4 linked regions of the Homo sapiens genome follow. The protein of the gene in region 1 purifies or fractionates together with the protein of each later gene. This does not show direct contact. Each region holds a gene or a part of one and is shown on either strand. Other genes may lie near its edges.

Region 1 (4,828 bases):
TCTAATATGAAGCAGTGGGGCGAGGTGGGAAGTTATTCTTCCTAATAGAGATTATGCCAGAGCTTAAAGATGTAGTGAGAAAAGGAGAGGTACTGGGAGGCATCCTAGACAAAGGTGCAATGGTACAGAGGCAAGAAGTATATGGGAAACTGGAAGCAGTAACTGTGGCTAGACCCCAGAATGGGAAATGGAGGCCTGAGTGGCCAAAAGATGAGGTTTGGAAAGAATCACAGTCTCGTTGACAGAGGGCCTGTATATCATGTTAAGGGGTTTGGGTCATTATCTGAGGACAGTAGGAAGTTATTCAAAAGTTTGGAATAGGTGAGGTCCTGGTGTTTTAATCAGGTCCAGATTAACAGAAGAGATAATGGGCTATGTATTATATCAATCAGAGAGGTTTAACCATTTGACTCTGTCCTGAGAACCCTATTTGACATAATTCCAGCCATAGTCAGCTCTTCAGTACTCATAATAAGAAAGGGGGTTGTAAAGATCTGACATGAGAGATTCTTGTAAAGTCTTTCCTTAAAAGGAAATGAATCAGTTTAGCTGGGTTTATCTTAGACTCAGTGAGTAAAAAAAAATCCAGTTAATTTTAAAATTCCAATAATGTCTCCTAAGATAATTTTGTTTGCTTATGTTACCTTTATTTATTTAAGTTTTACTTTCTTAAAAAATTACGTTGCTTTTTTTCTAGAATCAGAATAAGAGAACTGTGTTTGAAAGACTCATTCTGGGTCAAACAAACCTTTTATTTTAGTTTCTGTTCTTGGTGTGAACTTCTTTGAAAGACTGACTCCCGTTAGGTTGTGGTGTCTGTCAGCGCTCAGGTGTGGCATTTAGTTCGCAGCTCTCCTCTTGGAAGTTGTGAACTTTTCTGGGGAAAAGGTAATAGTGTTATGCTAATAATTCCCCGGAATTGTCTTTGAGGATAATCCTACTCTTCTTCTGAAGGATTAATTCGATCTGTGGAACAAGTTTCCTATGGTGAATATATCTGATGTAGAACTCTTAATGTCTTGTATCAGGAGTAAGAACGTTATTTGGGGTGACATAGAAAATGTGGATCATGGGAGATACTACATAGAGATATTCAGGCAAAAGAAGAAAATAAGCTTCCTGGATTGGTGCAGGGAATACTTTTATAACTATCTTCCTTTCACATTCAATTCCTGTTTCTATGAAGGGTTAGGGGGAACCAAAATGAAGTTAAACAGTTACACAATAAAAAAGAAATGAGGGTCCGTGTGTGGTGGCTCACGCCTGTAATCTCAGCACTTTGGGAGGCTGAGGCAGGTGGATCATGAGGTCAGGAGTTCAAGACTAGCCTGGCCAAGATGGTGAAACCCTGTCTCTACTAAAAATACAAAAATTAGCCGGGTGTGGTGGCAGGCACCTGTAATCCCAGCCACTCGGGAGGCTGAGGCAGGAGAATTGCTTGAACCTGGGCGGCAGAGGTTGCAGTGAGCCGAGATTGTTCCACTGCACTTCAGCCTGGGCAACAGAGTGAGACTTCGTCTCAAAAAAAAAAAAAAAAAAAAAGGGGGGCCGGGGCAGTAGTTCACACGTGTAACTTTGGGAGACTAAAGCAAGAGGATGGCTTCTAGCCAGTAGTTTGAGACCAGCCTGAGCAACATAGCGAGACCCTGTCACTACAAAAAATTAAAATTTAAAATTAATTTAATTAAAAATTATCCTTCAAATTAAAAAAAAAATCATCTGAGGCCAGGCACAGTGGCTCACATTTGTAATCCCAGCAGTTTGAGAAGCCAAGGCGGGAGGATCACTTGATCCCAGGAATTCAAGAACAGCCTAGGCAACATAGTGAAACCCCTATCTCTACCAAAAATAGAAAAAATTAGCTAGATGTGGTGGTGTGTGCCTGTAGTCCCAGCTGCTCAGAAAGCTGAGGTGGGAGGATCACTCGAGCCCAGGAGTTTGAGGTTGCAGTGAGCCATGATTATATGACTGTACTCTAGCCCGCATGACACAGAGCGAGACCTCATCTCTTAAAAAAGAAAAAAAAATGAGTAAAACTAGACAATAAAACGCAAACCAATAGAATCATCACAAATAGCCAAGCAAAGACTTCTGTTTCATAAAAAACTGACAAAAAAAAAAGTTAGAATTTTCTCTTTCCTTTTTTTTTTTGTTTTGGGACAAGGTCTCACTCTGTCACCCAGGCTGGAGTACAGTGATGCAATCTTGGCTCACTGCTACCTCTGCCTCCCAGGGTCAAGTGATCCTCCCACCTCAGCCTCCCAAGTAGCTGGGATTACAGGTGTGGGCCACCTTGTCTGGCTAATTTTTGTATTTTTAGTAGAGATGGGGTTTTGCCATGTTGTCCAGGCTGGTCTCAAACTCCTGACCTCAAATGATCCCCCTGCCTTGGCCTCCCAAAGTGCTGGGATTATAGGCGTGAGCCACCATGCCCGGCCTCTCTTTCCTTTTCAGCTAAGCATTTTGAAAGGAGAATCATATTACATTTCTTCACTTCCCAAACATTCCCTAACTGGAAAGGTGATGGTACTGCCCTCACTGTTCCACTGAATATACCTTCATGGAGGGCATCCATGACTTCTTAATTGCCAAATCTAGTGAACATCCTAACATCTTTGATTCCTCATTCTACTGGGCTCCTTTATTTCTCTCAATAGTTTTTAGATTTCAGGGTTTGTTAAAACATATTGCTGTTTCCTACCTTCGGGGTGTCCAATTCAGTAACTCTAGAGCCTGCATTTCTGAAGTTCCCTGGTGATGCTGATGCTTCCAGTTGGGGACTACATTTTGACAACCATTGTTTTATCTAATAATAATGACTATTCTCTCCTTGAAATATACTGCTCTTTTTGATTCTGTAACAGTATATTCTCCTAGTTTTCCTACTAATTACTCATCTATGAAGAAAGTAATCAAAAGAGACCTAAAAAAGATAAATTTTGAAAAGCTTTTATATATGGAATGACTAATGCTTATAGAGGCCCACTGACTTTTAACTTAATTTAAATGTTCTTTTTTGCCCTAATGGTGCTGACCAACTTAACTTTTTAAAAAAATAACAAGCCAGGTGCGGTGGCTCACACCTGTAATCCCAGCACTTTGGGAGGCTGAGGTGGGTGGATTGCTTGAGCTCAGAAGTTCGAGACCAGCCTGGGCAACATGGCAAAACCCTGTCTCTACAAAAAATACAAAAATTAATCAGGCATGGTGGCATGCATCTGTAGTCCTAGCTACTCGGGAGGTTGAGGTGGGAGGACTGCTTGAGCCTGGGAGATTGAGGCTGCAGTGAGCCATGATCATGCTACTGCACTCCATCCTGGGTGACAGACTGGACCCTGTGTCATAAAATAAAATAAAATAAAATAAAAATAAATACTTTGTTGACATATAATTCATACACCATAAAATCTATCTTTTTAAAGGATAAAATTCAGTGTCTTTTTGTCTGTTTTTGTTTTGTTTTTTTTTGAGATGGAGTCTTGCTCTGTCGCCCAGGCTGCAGTGCAGTGGCATGATCTCAGCTTACTACAACCTCCACCTTCCCGGCTGACACGATTCTCCTATCTCAGCCTCCTGAGTAGCTGGGACTGCAGGCATGTGCCACCACACCTGGCTAATTTTTGTATTTTTAGCAGAGATGGGTTTTCGCCATGTTGGCCAGGCTGGTCTCAAAACTCCAGCGCTCAAACGATCTATCCACCTTAGCCTCCCAAAGTTCTGGGATAACAGGTGGGAGCCACTGCACCCTGCCATTTCAATAGTTTTTTTAAAATATACCCACAGAGTCGTGAAATCATCACCACTATCTAATTTTAGAATATTTTCATTGTTCCCCAAAAGAAACTGTGTGCCCATTAAGCTGTAACTCCTAATTGCGCCCCTTTCCCCAACCACAGCAAATCTACTTTTCATCTCTGTGGATTTGCCTGTTCTGGACATTGCATATATGTGGACTCATACAATAAGTGGTTTGTTGTGTCTGGTTTCTCTCATTTAGCATAATGTTTTACAGGTTCATTCATGTTGCAGCATGTGTCAGCATTTTATACTTTTTTATGGCCAAACAATATGCCATTGTATTGGTATACTATATTTTGTTTATCCGTTCATTAGTTGATGGACGTTTAGGTTTCTGGTTTTTTGGCGAGTATGAATATGCAGCTATGGATATTATGTTTAAGTTATTGTGTTAACATGTTTTCTGTTCTTTTAGTTATATATCTAGGAATGGAATTGTTGGGTCATGGTAACCCTATGTTTAACTTTCTGAGGAACTGCCAAACTGTTTTCTGAAGTGGCTACACCATTTTACAATTTAACCTTTTGAGTTTCTGCTTTGTGCTTTAATGATGCTTTTCTAAATTACATGGTTTTTCAGACACCTTGATTTTAGAGTTAAAGCTAATCTTTTTTTTTTTTTTTTTTTTTTGAGACGGAGTTTCACTCTTGTTGCCCAGGCTGGAGTGCAATGGCATGATCTTGGCGCACTGCAACCTCCGCCTCCTGGGTTCAAGCAATTCTCCTGCCTCAGCCTCCCGAGTAGCTGAGATTACAGGCATGGGCCACCACACCTGGCTAATTTTTGTGTTTTCAGTAAAGATGGGGTTTCACCATGTTGGCCGGGCTGGTCTCGAACTCCTGACCTCAAGTGATCTGCCCGCCTTGGTCTCCCAAAGTGCTGGGATTACAGGCGTGAGCCACCGCGCCTGGCCTTTTTTTTTTTTTTTTTTTTTTTGAGACAGAGTCTCGCTCTTGTCGTCCAGGCTGGAGTGCAGTGGTGCAATCTTGGCTCACTGCAACCTCTGCCTCCTGGGTTCAAGTGATTCTT
Region 2 (4,228 bases), on another chromosome or scaffold:
TTAGGAATCTGTGCATATTGTAACCTACTGCCTAAGTTTCAGCTTTCTAGTTAGGAACTCTCAAAATTTTGTTGTGTTTTGTCTACTTTCCTGGTATCTCTGGGTTTGTCTTTATATGAAGTTAATTTAATTTCAGTGGAATTTCGACAGAAAGTGAAATTAAGATGCATGTGTTCAATTCACCAGCTGAACCTGCAACATCCACTGTCTTTTGTATTATTTGTATCATCTTCAAAACCGTCTTTTTAAATGACTATAATAGTCAATTAAATGAAAGTTCCCTACTTCAGTTAGCTAGAACCGTAGTTTAAAATGCAGGTTGTTCTAATTATTTTTTCACATTGCTTTTCCTTCATTCAATTATTTATTTCCTAAGGCTAGATTCTTGGAATGTAAGTACTAGGCTAAATGGGTAAGAACATCTTAGGGCTCTTGAAAAATATTGCCAGATTTTGCTTTCTCAGACGTTTAAACCATTTTGCAGTGCCTCTCCCAACTCTGCTTTAAGTAAAATATTTATCTTTCTTACACTTACCTGGTTTTAAGTATAAAAATTTCTCTTATTGGAAATAGTTCTCTTGTGCTTAAGATTAAATATATGTTGCAGTTTTTGCTTCGGTCTGTGATCTCTTTAGTCTGTTCTCAGGGAATGACATTTATTGACTTTTCTCATGTCTTGGTCATTCATCTACAATTTAATTTTAACATAGGAAAGGAGCAAAGGCATGGCTAACATTTACTTTGAGTTTTAACACCATTTCCCTGGTGATACTTTTATCCAGTCTAGAAGTTTGAGGATTTTTTTGAAGTTTCTTCTGACTCTCTTGAATTTATGTTTAGTCTTGGGCAGATTTGCCTGTCCTTTTAAGAATGCTTTTTTGTTGTTGTTGTTAAGACAGGGTCTCACTCTGTTGCTCAGGTACAAGTGCAGTGGCGCAGTCATGGCTCATTGTAGCCTTGACCTCCCAGGTGATCCTCCCACCTCAGCCTCCTGAGCAGCTGGGACCACAGGCACAAGGCACCATGCCCAGCTAATTTTTGTAACTTTTGTAGAGACACGGTTCCACTATGTTGCCTCAGCTGGTTTCGAACTCCTGTGCTGAAACAATCCTCCCAACTTGGCCTCCCAAAGTGCTGTGATTATAGGCATGAGCCACTGCGCCTGGCCAAGAATGCTTATTTTTTAATGTGACTGAATACTTTTTCTTTGTGACTTTGTTTTTAATACCCATCTAGAATGAAATGTTTTCAGAGAGAGAATAGTTGTCTACAGATATGCTACACATGGATTAAATTTCCCCTCTTTCATTGATTGTTGTTTTAGGTGGTGCTTCCTACATTTATCCTAGAGAAGCGTTCCTTGCTGGAAATGTATGCAGACTTTATGTCTCATCCAGACCTATTTATAGCCATCACTAATGGAGCCACAGCTGAGGACAGAATGATTCGCTTTGTTGAGTACTACCTTACCTCATTTCATGAAGGCCGTAAGGGAGCCATTGCTAAAAAACCATACAATCCTATCATTGGAGAAACATTTCACTGTTCCTGGAAGATGCCAAAAAGCGAGGTAGCATCCAGTGTTTTTAGCAGTTCTTCCACCCAGGGAGTCACAAATCATGCTCCTTTATCGGGGGAGTCTTTGACCCAGGTGGGATCAGACTGTTACACAGTCAGATTTGTTGCTGAGCAGGTTTCTCATCATCCTCCAGTCTCAGGATTTTATGCAGAATGTACAGAGAGGAAGATGTGTGTAAATGCGCATGTCTGGACTAAGAGCAAGTTCTTAGGCATGTCAATAGGCGTGACAATGGTTGGAGAAGGTAAGTAGAAAAATTATTTTATATATATATATATATATACACACACACATATATATATGTATTTTTTTTTCCAAGCAGGAATGAAAGTTTACTTTAAAAGGCTTTAGAACAGGAAAGAAAGGAAAGTTCGCTTGGGAGAAACCCAAGCAGGCACGTGAAGGTCAAGTGCCTGTTTTATAATTTTTAATATCAAACTACAATCTTAAATTTAGGAACCCCAGATAAATATTAACTCTAAGTTTAAAATATTATGTTACTTTTTCGCTCCAATTTCTAGAGTGTTCCAGAATGCTTCTTGTGGGGATGGGAGGAGTATATCTATGAACTAATGTAAATTCTCTTTTTAAATTATTTTTTTCTGATTTTAAATATTTCTTTTCGTTTGTTTTCTTTTCTTTTTTTTGAGATGGAGTCTCGCTCTGTCATCCAGGCTGGAGTGCAATGGTGCTATCTCCGCTCACTGCAAACTCCGCCTCCCAGGTTCAAGCGATTCTCCTGCCTCAGACTCACGAGTAGCTGGGATTATGGCGCCTGCCACCATGCCACCACACCCAGCTAATTTTTATATTGTTAGTAGAGATGGGGGGTTTCACCATGTTGGTTAGGCTGGTCTCAAACTCCTGACCTCTGATGATCCACCCACCTCGGCCTCCCAAAGTGATGGGATTACAGGCATGAGCCACCGTGCCTGGCGATTTTAAATATTTCTTATCAAATATTTGGAAAACTAGAAAAGTACAAAGCAGAAAATAAAAGCTTCTGTAATGCCTGCATCCATATATATATAAATTTAATATTTTATACTTTTTCTGTGTGTGTATGTTCATACTTTTAGCCTTATAAAATTAGAATTAATAATATATATAGTTTTGAGTCCTGCTTTTTAAATTAAATATATTCATTTTATCATGTCATTGATAAAACATATTTTAATGACTGCATAATATTCTATGAAATAGATTTTCCATCCTTTTTTTTAATTTAATTTAATTTAATTTTTTTTTTTTTTTTTTTTTAGAAACAGGGTCTTGCTCTGTTGCCCAGGCTGAAGTGCAGTGGCATGGTCATAACTAACTGCAGCCTTGACCTACTCGGCTCAAGCCATCCTCCTGCCTCAGCCTCCCAAGTAGCTAGGACTACAGGCATGCACCACCATGCTAGGCTAATTTTTTTAATTTTTATTTTTAGAGACAGGGTCTCAATATGTTGCCCAGGCTGGTCATGAACTCCTGGGCTCAAGTGATCCTTTGGCCTCCACCTCCAGGCATTAGCCTGTAATCTCAGCACTTTAGGAGATGGAGGCCAGAGGTGCTATTCATAGAATATTTAGGTGCTATTCATAGAATATTTAAAAATATATGCTGATAAAAGTTAATTCTACTTCATCAGAAGATTATGAAAAAATTATTTTTGGAAATGCAGAGTTTTTTGACCAAGAATATGAAACAAAAACAAAAATCTCCACAGAAATTATTGAAGAGTTAATGAAAATATAATGATAGGAAAAAAATACCACTTTTATGTTAAAGGAAAACTCTTATGCAAAGAACACTATGCTCTGAATGTCATCTTACAGTGTAAGCATGGCATCATTAAGCCAATCTAATATTTTGAGATTGTGTTATAGTCGTTATGAAGAAAGTATCCTCTTTTTCAGTTTTCCTCATTTTTAAGTTCTGTTGTAATATGTCTTACCAATTTCCAAATAATATTTCAAGTTAATTACAACTTTTATAACATTAGAAAGTACTCTCTTTTTTTTTTTTTGTTTGTTGTGTGTGTGTGTGTGTGTGTGTGTGTGTGTGTGTGACACGGTCTAGCTGTGTCGCCCAGGTTGAAGTGCAGTGGGGCCATCTTGGCTCACTGCAATCTCTGCCTCCCAGGCTCAGGCCATCCTCCCACCCCAGCTTCCACAGTAGCTGGGATTACAGGCGTGCGCCACCATGCCCAACCAATTTTTGTATTTTTTGTAAAGATGAGATTTTTGCCATGTTGCCCAAGCTGGTCTCAAACTTGTGAGCTCAAGTGATCCACCCACCCCAGCTTCCCAAAGTTCTGGGATTACAGTTGTGAGCTACTACACCCAGCTGAAATCATTCATATTTTATTAGTTAAAAACAAAAAGTTTGCTACCCTCCATCATAAGCTCCGTCACGTTAGCCTTAAGCACTTCATAGATCAACTTGCTTATTTTATAAGTGAAAAAAAACTGAAGTCTAGAGATGATGAGACATGTCTAAGGTCATAAATGTTAAGGAATAGACACATTTAGAACCATATTCTTTGACACTCTCCCAAAGGACAGTTAATCTTATCAGTTCATGTAACAGTAAGAATCTGGAAATGGTAGCCTCTCACACTGCAAGAAAGGAAGTACTTCAAGAAGTGAAGAAAAGCCCAGCACA
Region 3 (4,671 bases), on another chromosome or scaffold:
GGCAGTGAAGCTATTGTAGTGGTTCCCCAAACTACGGGCCAACTACAAAAAGGAATGAAAAATGTCTTGAATGTATATGTACAACAATTCAAAACACATACAACCACTTTTTATTACAACATAAATCCATTAAAAATCATTACTGAATTCCCAATTTGTTATGTATTTTCTAAATCAGCAAATACCAAGGGTGTAACTACTATAGTGAGCTAGTCCAACAAATTTTTTGGTGTTAAAAAAGGAGTGCTGTATGTCAAAAAGGTTGGTGGGTTTTGGAGTTAGACAAACCTTGATCTTAAACTCTGTCACTATTAATTAGTTGTGTGGGACTGGGCAACTCTGAGTTTGGTCCTTCATCTCTAGAGCGGTGGTTATAAAACCAACCTTGCGTTTTTTGACAATTAGAGAAATATATGGCATGTTTTAGATGCTCAGCAAGTGGGAAGTATCACAAAACGAAAAGCTGAGGTCAAATCAGAGTCCACCTTGAACACCAAGCTAAGGAACTGGTACTTTTTCTTTGAGCACATAGTTACAGAAGGTTTTGTCTGAGTGACAGGAAAATCAATAAGTAAGTTAGAAGGTGATTGCGTTGGTCTAGGTGAGGCATTATGAGGCACTGGCATTGAATTTCTGGGATATTTCAGAGTATTGACTATAGGACTCCACATCTACTTGTATATGAGGAATGTGAGATTAAAAAAAAGGTCGCTAGTTTGATCTAACTGTGCTGTTAACAACAATAAAAAGTCAACAGAGATGTAAAGGTCAGTTTTGGACATTTTGAGTTTAAACTCCTACAATTATCGTGGCTGAAAAAGCAGCAAACATGATGTCTGTTGAAAACAAGGCTTTAGGAATTTTGCTCATTCTTTAAAAACCTACGAATTTTAAAAATCAAACTTTAAAAAACTTTTTGTTTTTTTTTTTAAAAAAACGGCAGCGTAATACAATATTTGGACACGCTATACTATGGGCTTTGAAGAACGCCTGTCCAGAACACCCAACAAGCTCCATTATGTCAAACGCTCCCGCGCCTCTGTGATGTCACCACGACGCGCTGGGCGCTCTGCGACTTGGCAGACGTCGTGCGTCATTACCAACGAGGCGCAGGGGTCAGGACGACTCTCGGCAGCGCCATTGCGCGCCCTCTAGTGGCAGCCGGTTTTGAGGCCGGCCTCCGGCTTTGAAGTTCCTCACCGCGTCTCCTTCCCTCTCCCCAAAGCCTGGATCACCGCCCAGCGTCAGGCGAGGGGCGACGTCTCGAGGTAAAACGGAGGAGGTGCGGGACGCGGAGACTGCGCGGGCCCGGTAGCCCTGGAGAGGCCGAGGCTCTAGGCCGCGAGGGGCGGGTGCAATGGCGGAGGAACAGGTGAACCGCAGCGCCGGCCTGGCCCCCGACTGTGAGGCCTCGGCGACTGCAGAAACTACGGTTTCCTCAGTGGGGACCTGTGAAGCCGCTGGCAAGTCACCAGAGCCCAAGGACTACGACAGCACCTGCGTGTTCTGCCGGATCGCGGGGCGGCAGGACCCGGGCACCGAACTCCTGCACTGCGAGGTGGGCGGCGACGCGCGGCCGGGGGTGGGTGAGGACCTGGCCGCCCCTCGGAGCTCCGGCAGGGAGGCCTCGCCGTTGTGGAGCGGGTGCAGAGGATCCCGATCGCTACTCAGCTCGCAGAGGCAGGGCCGCTCTGTGTGGATGGGGCTCGGGGAAGCTGGGGATACGCCCACTACGGGCCTTTCTGCAGGGTCCGGGTGCTGATGACAGACTCACTCCTAGGGGACTGACAGGCAGTGGCTCCAGCGGTATCTTTGCTGTTCCCAGGGGCAAAGAGTGAATGACAGGGCCGAATGCTTTGGCCTATGTTTGCAGGTACCCAGGTAGTTGGTACAAATAACATTTTGTGGCCTCTGCTTTTATTACAAGGATTCTTCTCCACCTTCAAGATACTGATTTTAAATCCTGCACACTCTAATACCGATACTGATGAGAAAACTAGTAGAAAATAGGTAATGATAATTGTGGAAAGCTGTTTGTTAGATTGGCAGAAAATAGGCTGGAGGGAGTGGGTCTGAGGTCAAACTATTATTGAATTGCCTCTGAATTCCACTGTCAGTTGGGATGCGTGGACATTTTCAGAGCATGAAGACTTTGCCCAGATATTTTTAAACGGATAATCTGGCACACACTTTATTCTGTTGGTTTTACTTGTCCATATAGAAACAACTTTTTGAGAGAATTAGCTCCAAAGATTGTGTCTTTTGTAGTAAACATTCCTTTATTTTTTAAAAAATAAATATAATTCCTTCTAAGCACCTTGTTTTGGAGGTTTTTGAGCAAGATAAGGGACAGTCTGTGTCCCGATTTTACAATCTAAAGGGCGGAATGTATACAGAGGAGGTAGCCAGTTACAATGCCTCGTGCTGTGGTCAGGTGATTTTACAGTATTTTGTAAGCTTGTGGGAGGAGCATCTAACCCAGCTCTGAAGAATTAGGGAAGGCTTTCCAGAGGAAATGAGACATGAAGAAATAAGTAGGAGTTGATCAGATGAGGAAATGGAGAGAATAATGTCCCAGGTTGAGAGACCCCCCGAGAGGTTCAGTTTGTGTGATAGAAAAACTAACAGAAATTGTCTAACTAGTGCATAGAGTTTGAGAGGATGAAAGGCGAGGCTGGAGAGGTAAACAAGGGACCAGATTATTAAGTGTGTTGGAAGTCATGTGAAGGAATTTGTCTTTATCTGAAGAGCAAAGTGAAACTTCACAATGTTTAATGGTGGGTTGGGAGGAAGATGTTGCGGAGTTATAGGAAGGGGGTTGATCTTTGAAAGGTCATTCTGGCATCATTGTGGAGAATGATTTGGAGGAGACCAGTCTGGAGGTATGGAGACCCGTTAGAAGGCTAGTAGATTAATCTACCCTGATGATGGCCTGAAATGAGAATGTGGTAGAGGAGATTATGAAAAGTATATCAATTTAAGGGATACAGTATTCAGGAGGTAAAACAGGGAGGACTTGATGGATACAGGTCAGTGATTCTCAACTGGGGGCAATTTTGCCCTCCCAGGGTACATTTTGCAATGTATTGAGATACTTTTGATTGTAACAACTTCTGGCACTTCTAGGGGTTGCTTCTGGGACCTAAATAATGGATAAAAGCCAGGGTTGCTATTAACATGGTACAGTGCACAGGACAGCACCCCCACCACCCCATCAACACACACACATAAAACAGGCTTATCCAGCCCTCAAAATGTCAGAAGTGCCAAGGTTTAGAAACCCTGATTTAGATATAAGAGGATAAGGAAATGAAAGAGGGTGAAGTCAAAGATGATTTCCAGGTTTCTGGCTAGGGTAAACTAGTAGTGGTGGTACCATTTCATTAAGCTCGGGAACACAGGAGGAGAAAAGATGGCCAGGGGAGTGGTGGGAGGTAGCAAAGCGATGAGTTGAGCTATGGAGTTGTGGAGTTTGAGGTGAGTTTGAGGCATCTAAGTAGAGATGTCTTTTAAATGGTTGGATAGTCTAGCACTCTGTAGAGGGATCTGTATCTCTAACCCAGATTACAGGAACTGTCGGTTTATAGATGGAAACTGAAAAAGAAGGGAAGCGATGAGATCACCCATGAGGTAAAAAGTGAAGGGGAGGCCTACACAGAACTCTGAAGAACACTAACATCATAAGGGACAGACAGAGGAAGAGGACCTGGAAAGGGAATAGAGAAGGAACAGAGAAATAGAAGGAACGCTGGAAAGGCTAAGAGAAGGGAGTATGTCAAAAAGAAAGGAATTGCCAGCAATGTCAGCAGCAATATTAGCCTGCCTTCATCCTCAAATCTGGGTTAGATGACCCTTGTATGTCCTTGCAGAGTCAGAGCAGGACTGGTTGTGTCCCCAAAGTGATGTTCATTGACCTTGAGGAGAGCAATTTCATGAAGTGGTGAAGCAAAAGGCAGATAGCAGTTGATTGAGAAGAACTTGGGAAAGGAAGGAGTGAAGACAGCAAATACAGACAACTCTCACAGGAATTTGGCAATCCAGGGGAGGAGGGAAAGGTAGTGGTAGCTACAGGAGAAGTTGGGGATTAAGAGAAAGCTTTTAAAACAGTGAAACCTTTTGTGTGTTCAAATCCCAGTGGGAAGATGCCTATAGAGAGAGGTTTAAAATGGCCCGGCGGGTAGAATGTTGACCCTGGGAAAGAGGAAACTCATTCCTCACTCTCTGTGTGCCAGGCACTGTTGGAGGCATGGGGATACAGCCGTAAACAAAACATGCAAAACTCCTTGCCCTTGTGGAGCTCACATTGTCGTTGCAGAAAAGGATAATAAGCAAAACAATAAGTAAAATTTATAGTTTATTAGATGGCAGAAAATAAAGAGGAAGGGGATGCAGTTTTAAAATTTTAGTCAGGAAAATCTGCACTAAGCAGGTGACATTTGGGTTAAGCCTTGAAAAAGGAGAAGGAGCAATTATATGGTTATATGGTTATTTACAAGTAAAAGGTTTGAAGTAGCTCCTGTGAAGGCTAGGAGAGAGAATTAGGGAAACAAGGATTGTTGTACAGCGGGTCACGTGAGGTTGAGGACATTCAATTTCAGGTCATACCAGTCTGCTTAGTTGTGTGATTTTCTTCCCACTTTCCAGCAGCAGCCAAAGGCTGAGATTACACAA
Region 4 (4,850 bases), about 49 Mb from region 1:
ACTATCTGAATCCCAAACCCATCCCCTTATCCTTCAACTTCAACCTGCTGCCACATGCCAGTATTAGCCCCAGGAATCCTGCCCCTGTCCCTGAGTTAACCCAGTCCTCACTTGGTTATTACTCCTCACTGCAGGGCCCATGAGCCCCACTCCCTAGCCCCAGACCCAATCCCCATTTCCATATCACCTGCTTACCTCCATCTTCACCCAGAACCCATGTGTCTTGCTCTCACATGCCCTCTCTCTTCCCCAAACCTCAGAGGCCACCCCAGCCCTCCAGCCACCCAAGTGCACTCACTGGCCATGGACAGGAGCATGGCAAGGGCAGCAAAGATCCCAGCCAGGCCCTGGCCGCTGAGGAAGAGGGTGCTGTAGGTGGAGGGCATGGTGCCCAGCTGCCCGAAGAGGCTGCCCTGTAGGACTGCACTGAAGGCTGTGGAGGACAGGGATGGGGGCTGCTGCTCAACTAGGCAAGACTCAGAGGCTCCCTGGAGGAGGTGCCGGCAGGATACACAGGGGACTCTGGACAAGGTTGCGCAGGTGTGAGCTTCCCTAGGGACTCTGAGCACTCGGGGGCAACACCCGCTATTCAGTCCTCTTCTGAGGTGCAGCCATTGGTCTGTGGGGCTGTTGACCAGGAGGCCTGCTCCTAGGTCACCGGACAAGTGACTCTTCCCCTCCCTGTGGGCCTCAGTTTCTTCACCAGGGATATGAGCGACCATGATGCTGTCTGCCCTTCTCGGATATGCTGGGCCCTTTCAATGATGAGGCCAGGCTGAAGCCCTGCATAGGCTGGCTGGAGAGGGGGTGGAGGTGCTCACAGTTGATGAAGCAGACGGAGGCCATGGTGATGGAGAAGAAGGGTCCGGGGCTCATGTCCACCTTGACCAGCGCTGCTGTCAGGGCAAAGAGCAGCAGTATGGCCAGCAGGCTGCCCAGAATGCGCACCGTCTCCGGGACGCTGCTCAGAAGCAGGCAGAGTGCATCAGTGGGGCCCAGGCCAGAGGGGGCTGGGGAAGGAGGCTCGACACCTGGGGCTGGGCAGTAGGGCTGGGGGGCAGGGGGCGCAGGGGAGGGCCTCAATGAAGCTGCCTCGGCAGAGGGCGCAGGAGCCAGGGCAGGCCTCTCACCACTGGTACAGGAAGGAGTTGAGGAGGGTGAAGAGCAGCAGGGGCAGCTGGGACAGCAGCGTCACCCAATTGTTGAAGTTGAAGGCATCCTCGGGACCCGTGTGGTTGGTGCTCAGGATCCTGGCTGTGCTGTTGCCGGCCCCGGCCAGTCGCGCCTGGAAGTACTGCCAGGTGGGGAGGTGGTGGAGGGTCAGCACCTCTCAGCCTTCCCCCGCTGCCTTCCCCCTCACTTGTGATTGCTTTCTAATGTCTGTGGGGACTTGTCTGCCTTGTCCTTGTTCTGTTCCCAGCAGCCGGCACACAGTCGGAGCTCCATGAATGTGTGCTGAGTTAAATGGCTGAAGTCTGGGACACAGCCTAAGCATTAAGAGCCCCCAGCAAGAGCCTCGATCCAGCCTTGGACGGCCCCTCCTCTTCAGTGCCCTGGTTCCAGCCCCCATCCCCACTCCTGCAGCAGCTGCTACATTCATTCATTCCACGGGTATTTATTGAGCGCCTACTGTCAGCCAGGCTTTGGCCTAGGTGCTGAACAACTGCATTCTCTCTAGAGCACATAGCCTGCCACTCCTCTGCTTAACCTCCTCACTCCTCAACACCCCGATTCATGCCTCCCTATTGCCTGCAGGGCAAAGCCCCAAATGGAACAGCTCTTCAGAATCAGATCCTAGTCTCCCTTTGTGCCCCATCTTCTGCTCCATCCTGCTAAGCTCCAGGCAGCCCTGGCTGTGGATCTCCCTCTAAACAGGCTGATCGTCTCTTGCCTGCCTGCCTTTGGCATGGCTGTCGCCTCGGCCTGGAATGCCCTACTGACCACACCCCTCCACATGCACTTTGCCTACCCTACTCCCAATTTACAAATCTCCTCTTCCATGAAGCAGAAGGAACTTTCTCCCTCCCCTGGGGACCCACTGCACTCTGCTGCAAGCCTGGAATGTCACGCATCATGTTACATTATTAATAGCTCTTTGGCCCCCTCTTGCTCTCAAGCCCAGGGGCTGATTCATCTCTGGGTTTCCAGGGCCCAGCACAGAGCCAGTACCCAAGAAGCATTTGCAAAGTTGTTGCAGTGAATACAGATGAATAACCCGGTCCCAAAGACAATGCAAACCCCACATTTCTGCCTTCCCTGAAGAGCCTCCCTGCTGTTTCCTCCTGTGTCCCCAGTGCCTGCTCCACAGTAGATGCACATTAAAAGTTTGTTGAATGAGGCTGGGCACGGTGGCTCACGCCTGTAATCCCAGCACTTTGGGAGGCCGAGGCGGGAGGATCACGAGGTCAGGAGATCGAGACCATCCTGGCTAACACGGTGAAACCCCGTCTCTACTAAAAATACAAAAAAAAATAGCCGCGCGTGGCGGCGGGCGCCTGTAGTCCCAGCTACTCGGGAGGGTGAGGCAGGAGAATGGCGTGAACCCGGGAGGCGGAGCTTGCAGTGAGCCGAGATGGCGCCACTGCACTCCAGCCTGGGCGAAAGAGCCAGACTCTGTCTCAAAAAAAAAAAAAAAAAAAAAGTTTGTTGAATGAATGAGTGAATGAATGAAATTCATGGTATTTCAAAGAAAATCAAACGTTCGATAACCGACTTTTGGGGTGACTGACTCAGGAATAACGACACACAGAGAGGGGTGGCAGCGCCTTTGCTCATTCCAGACCCTGTGGGCTGGTGGCCTTGCCCCTCTGAGATGTGGGCATTGCTGAAGTTCTACTTTCCTAGCCACGGGGGAAGCATTCCCCTCTCCGAGCTTCAGCCCATAATGAGCTCAACGAGGGGTCACAGGTGCGCGGTGAGGAAGCGCCCGCTAAGCTTCATCCAAAGGGCTGGAGGGAGGGGTGCTGGCTGTGGCCACGAGGCTGCCACGCCGCCAGGAGTCTCACCGGGATGGCGGTGATGAAGAAGTTCCAGGGAAGGAGGGTGCCCAGCCCCAGGATGAAGAAGCTGATCCCGACCAGGTGGTAGCTGTGGGGATCGGTGGGAAGGTCACCCCGAGGACGCACCCGCCTCCGCAGGCCCTCCCGCCTCCCAGGCCACCCCCTCCGGAGCGGACTACAACCCCGATCACCCCGGTTCCGGCGGCCGAGGGAGTCGGCTGATGGGAATTGTAGTTCGATCCGGTCTTCTCTGAGCCTCGGAGCGCCTTCAGGGAGCGGGTCTGCAACGCCCCCGGCCACTTGCAACGCACCCGGGCCCACTCACCTGTCCCGCGGGGCGTCTCCTCGCGCCATGGCCGCCGCGGCGGATGCGCCTGGGGTGAAAGGGGCAGAGAAGCCGCACCTGCACCTGCGCTGGGGCGGAGGGCCGCAGACCGGTGGGGCGGGGGGCGGGTCTCCCCAGATTCCGGTGCAGGGCGGCTGGAGTCGCACAGGTAGCCTCGGGCGGATTTCGGCGTGTCTCGCGCTCCGCAGGCTGGGACCTGGGCTCCGCCCCGAGGCGGGGACAGAGGGTCGCGCCACCCGTCTCTCCTTCCCCCACCCGCCTCAGGGACTCGACTCTGGCTCGGGCCCCGCCCCACCTAGGGGCCTGCGGAACCCGCCCGCTCCCCGCACAGCCCCTCCCCGCAGCCCCCCGTCCTCTCCGCGGGGGCGGGTCCCGGATCCCTGCGGCGGAGGGGAAGGCGGGGGTAGGGACGAGGTGTAACCTCACCTCCACCCCCCGCCGAGAGCTCTGTAGGGGCAGCACTGGTGCGGGGCTCTTCCCGCTTCGTCAGCTCCGAGGTGATGCCAGAGCCGCTCCTGCGACCCCTAAAGCTGGAACCCACCGGGGCGCCCCCTAACTAGGGAGCCGCTGCGGAGTCCCCGCCCAGAGCGTAACCCGAGCCGGGCCCGGGCGGGGGAACCAGAGCTGCCACAGGTCGCCCGCGATCCTGGCGGGCTTCGCCGCGCTGGGTCCCCGGGAGTGCCTGGAAAAAAACAGCATTACTTTCAACTCCCTACTCTTTTTCTGTTAAAAAAAAAAATTTGAAAAGACTATAAATCATTAATTTGCTCCTACTCTCATAATCTACGAATAGGTGTGGGTTCTCTGCAATCCCCGGGCGTATCGGGGACGCTGGAGAAGTGAGAGGCTCCAAAACACAAACTAGTTTTTTTGAGACTGAGTGTCGCTCTGTCGCCCAGGCGGAAGTGCAGTGGCGTGATCTTGGCTCACTGCAACCTCCCCCTCCCAGGCAGGTTCAAGCGATTCTGGTGCCTCAGCCTCAGGAGTAGCTGGGACTACAGGCGCATGCCACCACGTCCGGTTAATTTTTGTATTTTTAGTAGAAACGGGGCTTCACCAGCTCTACTGAAGAGGTGGCCAGTCTAGTCTCGAACTCATCTTTTGACCAGGCTGGTCTCGAACTCTTGACCTCAGGTGATCCGCCCGCATCGGCCTCCCAAAATGTTGCTATTACAGGCGTGAGCCACCACGCCCGGCCACAAACTATTTTCTTAAGCAATGACATTTTATAGCCATTCCCAGGTTGCTTATGTTTTTCCTCCAGCCGACTGAGAGTCTGTAGGGGCAGAGGCTGTGCTTATCTGGTCCATTGGTTTACTGGCAGCATCTAGCGCCGTTGAGTGATAAATGGGTGGTTGCAGTAAAATGCAGGTGATTTTAGGGAGAACAGAGACAGCATTAAATTACACCGAAAGAGAAAGTTATTCTTCCCATTTTCTTTCAAGCCTCTGAATATGTCAAGGGTGTTAACAGGTTGCTAACACTTCTTAATCTGCCTTCCCATC

The links. The genes of interacting proteins can lie anywhere in the genome.
Region 2: the proteins of NUCB2 (region 1) and OSBPL11 purify together in Homo sapiens (co-immunoprecipitation; one large-scale study listed by IntAct). This does not show direct contact.
Region 3: the proteins of NUCB2 (region 1) and HINT3 purify together in Homo sapiens (co-immunoprecipitation; one large-scale study listed by IntAct). This does not show direct contact.
Region 4: the proteins of NUCB2 (region 1) and SLC29A2 fractionate together in Homo sapiens (co-fractionation; one large-scale study listed by BioGRID). This does not show direct contact.

The regions. Positions count from the first base shown.
Region 1 is NC_000011.10:17,296,561-17,301,388, forward strand, and holds part of NUCB2 (nucleobindin-2 isoform 1 preproprotein), read left to right. Parts: intron 1-4,828. UniProt on the Homo sapiens protein: Calcium-binding protein which may have a role in calcium homeostasis. Acts as a non-receptor guanine nucleotide exchange factor which binds to and activates guanine nucleotide-binding protein (G-protein) alpha subunit GNAI3.
Region 2 is NC_000003.12:125,549,776-125,554,003, reverse strand, and holds part of OSBPL11 (oxysterol-binding protein-related protein 11), read left to right. Parts: intron 1-1,324; coding exon 1,325-1,823; intron 1,824-4,228. UniProt on the Homo sapiens protein: Plays a role in regulating ADIPOQ and FABP4 levels in differentiating adipocytes and is also involved in regulation of adipocyte triglyceride storage. Weakly binds 25-hydroxycholesterol. Interacts with OSBPL9 to function as lipid transfer proteins.
Region 3 is NC_000006.12:125,955,621-125,960,291, forward strand, and holds the start of HINT3 (adenosine 5'-monophosphoramidase HINT3), read left to right. Parts: upstream 1-1,149; 5' UTR 1,150-1,357; coding exon 1,358-1,558; intron 1,559-4,671. UniProt on the Homo sapiens protein: Exhibits adenosine 5'-monophosphoramidase activity, hydrolyzing purine nucleotide phosphoramidates with a single phosphate group such as adenosine 5'monophosphoramidate (AMP-NH2) to yield AMP and NH2.
Region 4 is NC_000011.10:66,368,239-66,373,088, forward strand, and holds the start of SLC29A2 (equilibrative nucleoside transporter 2), read right to left. Parts: upstream 3,523-4,850; 5' UTR 3,354-3,522; coding exon 3,325-3,353; intron 3,088-3,324; coding exon 3,006-3,087; intron 1,295-3,005; coding exon 1,131-1,294; intron 962-1,130; coding exon 822-961; intron 434-821; coding exon 299-433; intron 1-298. UniProt on the Homo sapiens protein: Bidirectional uniporter involved in the facilitative transport of nucleosides and nucleobases, and contributes to maintaining their cellular homeostasis. Functions as a Na(+)-independent, passive transporter.